Regions from separate parts of the Homo sapiens genome. Here region 2 is linked to region 1. The links come from fine-mapping of genetic effects on plasma protein levels. A gene starts in region 1. The other region holds a variant in brackets. All regions are shown on one strand. Distances are from middle to middle.

Region 1 (2,920 bases):
GATCAGTGTGGCCTTGCACTGAAGTAGGCACCTATTTCAGTCTTTACATACTAGCTTCAGCAGAGAAAGCCATTCACTAGTCAGATTGACCAGAGATTGTTGGTGGGCTGTCTGTTGGGGTCTATGCACAGGATTTCTGCTGGAGTTCTAAGGTGGGAAGGGCTGGATTCTGGGTTCATTCACTGTGGTTGTCTGTATTCTGTGCACAAGGACTGGCTTGAAGCATGGATCCTTGGGGGCTGACTTGGCACTGAAATGAGCCTTAAGCCTGCGTCTGCAGGGGCCAGCCTAACATGGGGATCACCTGGCACCTGAGTTCATGGGGATAGGCCTGTTCCTGAGTTTATTCAGGCTGTCCTGGGAACAAGGTCCACTGGGGTGAGCCCAGCATCTGGGTCCACATGGCCCAGCATGGAGCCAAGATCTCTGGAGGCTGACCTGGTGCTGGATCTGCAGGGGATGGCCTGGATTCTAGGCCCATGGGTGCCAACTTGGAGCCTGGGGTTGCTGGGGCTAACGTGGAGGCTAGATAGAGTCTTGGGGGCCAGGCTAGAGCTGGAGCAGGCCTGAAGTCTAGGTTTTGTGTGGCCATCTTGGAGCCTGAAGCCCCAGGGGCTGACCTGGTCTGGGGTGAGCATGGGGCTGAGGCCACAGAGGCTGGTCTGGCCTGTGGCAGGCCTGAATCCTGGTGCTGGGGTTTACTGGAGTGGGCTTGGTGCTTGGGATCTGTGGTGAAGTTAGGTTCTATCTTAACTGTCCCTCCTCCATGCAAGAGGGCATCTCTCTCCATACTGTGCTGCCCAGGCTTGAAGGTGAGATGACACCGGTAATGTGAAATTGTCCTTCCTATACACTTCTATGTGTCTTTTCTTATTTCTGTGCTGCAACCAGGTGGCATAACCTCTCACCTGATTCCTTAGCTCTAGTGAAGTTATTTTCGTGCATGGATACTTGTTCGAATTGATGTTTCTGCAAGGGATGAGCGCTAGAAACTCCTGTTCTGACAAACTCCTATTCCTATTCTTGCTGACATCACTCCCTGAAATAGTTAATATACTTAACAGCTGAACACGGATAGGATGTTCATGGAATATGTTGACAGGACAAAAAGTTGAAACTGTTGGCAGAAACCCAAAGTCAATATTGAAGCCAAGCAAAATATTGCCTGCAGTGCCACATTAGAACAGCTTGAAGACCGTTCATTTTTAAGTGACAAGAGACTCACCTCCAAGAAGCAATTGTGTTTTCAGGTAGCAAATTTTTATTATTCTGATTGTTTCCAAATAAACTATAATTTTTAAGTATAATTTTTTACTTTATGAGAAAATTAATCATTTATATTCTAATTTCCTGAGTATGTAGAGAGTATAGATAATGTTCCTTTATGTAGAAATATTTAAATGTAAGATGATTTTAAATCAGAAAGAATATTTGATTGATTTAAAATTTTTAAATGGGCTTTAATATTTTCAGAGGTTTTCTTTACTTAGGGATTTTTGGACTGACATTATTGCCATTATTTATTAATTTTGTTTTTGCCCAAATCAAGAGGTTTCATAATTGTTTACTCTCTCTCTACCAATTCCCTTTCCAACATTACTAGCCACAGAGTTGGCCAATGAACAATAAACACAACAGTAGTCTGGAGGTCTCAATTTGTATCTTGGGAAGCATTATAAATTTTCCAACTCCCTAGACACAAATGTACCAAAAAAAAACCCTTGTTTTCTATACCAGTAATTGTGTGCTTTGTCTTGCAATTCAGACATTTACAAGAAAATCTAAATCACCTTAAATTAAGATTTATGTTAAATGTGGTCTAAAACCAGCAGAGTTATGTATTGTTTTCTTTTTTAGAATGATTTTATTCAAGCAAGCAACTTATTTCATTTCCTTGTTTGCTACAGTTTCCTGTGGTAAGTGAATTATCTATAAAACATGGAATTCAGGCTAAGACAGGAGTAGCCAAGCAAGTGGCACCACCCCTGGAGAAAGCTATTGAACATACAGCTTCGGGGGTGGAGATTGTCCCTGATGATTCAGGACACGTGTCTATTTAATGTTCCACAACAAGGACCACTTGTCAGGTATATTGCTGTAGACATATGTTGCAGACCAGAGGAAGGAGCTCAGAAGTAGGAATGTCTTGGGACTTGTGTTAACAAAAACTTCTGTTCGCAGATGACACTCTGCAAAGCAAAACTTGAAACAAAAAAAAATTAGTCCTCTATTTTTATTATCAACAGTAAAAAATTAAACTTTATCTGAAAATTCAAAAGAGTGCTAGGCATTTTATAGTGTCTGGGTCCAATCCAAGTATCTGTTAGGAACACCATACATAGTTTTACTCTGGACCGCTAGGGAACCATTTCAAAAATGAAAGTAACTGGTTTAAATTTAACTTAGCAAACCATGCATTTGGATAGTTCTAGGTGAATAGCTTTCAACACCAGATTTAGATCTCATTTCTCTATTAATTTCATTAATTTTTGGAGAATAAAAATGATTCTGGACATTTCATTAATCATTACAGAGGGAGTTTTCTCTGTGTCCCCACAAGGCATGATTCTGGGTCTATGGTGACTTAAGAGGGCCACACAACAATGAGTATTTAATTTTCCTCAGATGTATGGCTACAATAAACATCTATAGGTAAGGTTTACATTCATAAAGAGACCTTTTTTTTTCCAGGAAAAAAGACTTTTATTCCCCCTAAATCACAACTCCCCTGTGTCTGTCCCTCAACCCTGATTTCTCTTCTAAACCGTAATTTACAAACCCATGTGCAAACCCACTGAAAGGTGAGAAGGAGCATAAGCCAGAGACACTGGGAACCACAGCCAACTACAGGGGGTTTTTCATTTTTTTGTTTTGTTTTGTTTTTTGGCAAAATAAATCATGATTATGGCTAGGAAAATCA
Region 2 (2,920 bases), 30 kb after region 1:
AACTCTTTATCTTTCCTATCTATTTATTCCCAAATATTTATTCAGTTATTCTTAAAAAATGTATTTTTGCTTTGGCTTGAAAAAAAATTTTAGGGAGACTTTTAAGCATCTTACTTCATTATAAAGATCAGTTGCTTGACTTTGCATGAAGCAGATTGGGCCCTTCTAGGGCTGACAAGCCCGTGCAAGACCACCCGCTCCTCAGTGTTAGTAGCGTTCCCGTCTCCCAAAACCATGTTCTCCCTTGATGCTAATGGCCGGGAGCACAGGCAGGTGTGTCGTCTCACTATGGAGAATAATATTTGTGTCATTCTTTACAGAAGAAGGTAGCTTGCCAAACTGTCTCCATCTTTCCCGATTCAGTCTTTTGTTCAAGTAATTCACATTTTTAGATTTTTTATTGGTAATCTGAGACAAGAAGAAATTTAAAGTAATCTTCACTAAGCCATGAAAGCTCCCAACATTGTTCTCCATGAGAGATGCTGGCCTGCATTTATTCAAAAACAAAAGACCCCTCTGTTGCCAAAGCTCGGAGGGCTTTTCAGAAACGATATAGTTGTAAATTATAATTTTGAATATATAAAGCAAAAAAATGAAAAGTGAGAACTTCCAGGCTTTGGATTGTTGTAGGTGATAAATATAAAATGGGATTTCTGGGGGGCTGCTACTGAGATGAGGGGATGGCAGAAAACATGGAAGCAAGGTCTCTGGTCAGCCCAGGGTGCTGGGCTTGTCCCAACACCACGTAGGCAATAAGAGGACAGTACAGGGTGCCGTCTCTCTCCCTCTTCCTCTCTCTGTCTCTCTCTCTCTGTGTGTGTGTGTGTGTGTGTGTGTAACACTACCTTCCCAATTTTTACTGTCTATTTGTATTCAAAGATAAGGTCCTTATGAAAAATACACTGCTCTGATTCACTTTAAAACTTATTTCCATATTTATTATTTATTGTGGGAATAATAATATTCCCAATATTATTATTTATTATTTAAGTTATTATTATTAACTTCCCTCTGAGGTTATATATTGGTTACTCACAGGTGAAATCCAAAATATTCTACAAAAGGTAAATATTCCTTTGGTAACAAATGAAGAATGCCAGAAAAGATATCAAGATTATAAAATAACCCAACGGATGGTCTGTGCTGGCTATAAAGAAGGGGGAAAAGATGCTTGTAAGGTAACTCATGAGATTATGAAAAACACAATAGGCTGCTTGAGAAAATTCATTTCAAAATATATTTTCCAATAGCATAATTCAATCATAGTTTTTAAAAAAATTCAGAGACAAATGATCTGATAAATTGATAAGCAACTTTTAACAAATTGAATATACATAATATATATTTATATTATTTATGATATATGTCACAATCTATGCATGTGCTATTTAAGAGGGGCAAATATACATGCAATAATTGTGCTAGAATATAAAAACATTAGACTTCATCATTGGGATGATGATATCAAGATTTCTTTGTTAGATTTATTTCAGATAGAAAAGGGGATACGAAAAATGCAGGCACATGAGATACTTGGAGAACTTTAAGAAAGAGTGAGTGTGTGTGTGTGTGTGTGTGTGTGTGTGTGTGTGTCTGGCAAGCAAGGTCTTGCACACACACAGCACTTTGGGAGGCCAATGCAGGTGGATCACTTGAGCCTAGGAATTTGAGACCAGTCTGGGCAATGTGATGAAACCCATCTCTACAAAAAAATATGAAAGTATCTGTGTGTGTGTGTTGCTGTGTAGTGGACTACAGAACTTTAGAGGCAGTCACTTATTTGAATCCCATTG[T/C]CGTAACTTTCTACTATTTTATTTTTCCACTGTGACTCAGGGAGATTCAGGTGGTCCCTTAGTTTGCAAACACAATGGAATGTGGCGTTTGGTGGGCATCACCAGCTGGGGTGAAGGCTGTGCCCGCAGGGAGCAACCTGGTGTCTACACCAAAGTCGCTGAGTACATGGACTGGATTTTAGAGAAAACACAGAGCAGTGATGGAAAAGCTCAGATGCAGTCACCAGCATGAGAAGCAGTCCAGAGTCTAGGCAATTTTTACAACCTGAGTTCAAGTCAAATTCTGAGCCTGGGGGGTCCTCATCTGCAAAGCATGGAGAGTGGCATCTTCTTTGCATCCTAAGGACGAAAAACACAGTGCACTCAGAGCTGCTGAGGACAATGTCTGGCTGAAGCCCGCTTTCAGCACGCCGTAACCAGGGGCTGACAATGCGAGGTCGCAACTGAGATCTCCATGACTGTGTGTTGTGAAATAAAATGGTGAAAGATCACGATTAGCAAGTGTTTTCTTCTGGTTGTGAAACAGAACTGAAAGTAAGTGGTTGAGGTTCCAGCACAGTTCCTGGGATCCCTCTAATTGCACTGCTTCCTCTGGAACTCAGTATATCTCAAAGATGTAATTTCCTCTCCGTGCTGCACCTGGTCGGCCACTGAAACCCACTATTGCCTGCTTCACGTGTGGCAAAGAGCTAGCGGGCTTGGGTTTTGTTCTGCCGAGAGGAAGGGAGAACACCCACTTTTATAAGAAAGAGATGGGTTACCTGAACCCATGGGCACCTTTGCCTCTTGGCCTCCTAACTTTGCTACCAGGGCATGGCTAGGAGGGTCCAGGCTGCGCGTGCTGAGGAGCTCGAGGGGCTGCAGCATTGCACAGCCTTCATGGCAGGCAAGGAATCTGCTTTGCAAGGGGCATTAGCCCTGGAGGCTCAGTGGATATGGGCTATTGCAATAGTAATTCAAGGAGCATTTTTAGGCCTGGCGTGGTGGCTCACGCCTGTAATTCCAACAGTTTAGGAGATCAAGGCAGGTGGATCACTTGAGCATAGGAGTTCGAGACTAGCCTGGCCAATGTGACGAAACCCCATCTCCACAAAAATTAGCTGGGCATGGTGGTGCGCACCTGTAAT

Direction of the effects. Alleles are on the strand shown, and positions count from the first base shown. The strength of an association depends on the size of the effect and on how common the allele is.
In carriers of allele C in region 2, the plasma level of the protein whose gene starts at base 1,170 in region 1 tends to be lower than with T alone (moderate association).

Evidence for each region. PIP is the posterior inclusion probability: the model's chance that the variant is causal. Protein levels are from antibody-based Olink assays in UK Biobank. Linkage for the fine-mapping came from a reference panel and not from the study's own genotypes, which makes the PIPs less certain.
Region 2: its variant is fine-mapped to the plasma level of the KLKB1 protein (UK Biobank, PIP 0.98).

Annotation. Positions count from the first base shown.
Region 1 is chr4:186,226,338-186,229,257 of GRCh38, forward strand. It overlaps KLKB1 (kallikrein B1), which reads left to right and starts at 1,170. Exons shown (of 15, transcript NM_000892.5): 1 at 1,170-1,250; 2 at 1,858-1,916. The coding sequence starts at 1,859. RefSeq lists an enhancer at 1-347.
Region 2 is chr4:186,256,188-186,259,107 of GRCh38, forward strand. KLKB1 (kallikrein B1) reads left to right here. Exons shown (of 15, transcript NM_000892.5): 14 at 1,039-1,178; 15 at 1,834-2,284. The coding sequence ends at 2,025. Among named protein-coding and RNA genes, the nearest start is that of F11, 8.5 kb to the right of the region's middle. The variant T/C (reference allele first, on the strand shown) is at 1,794.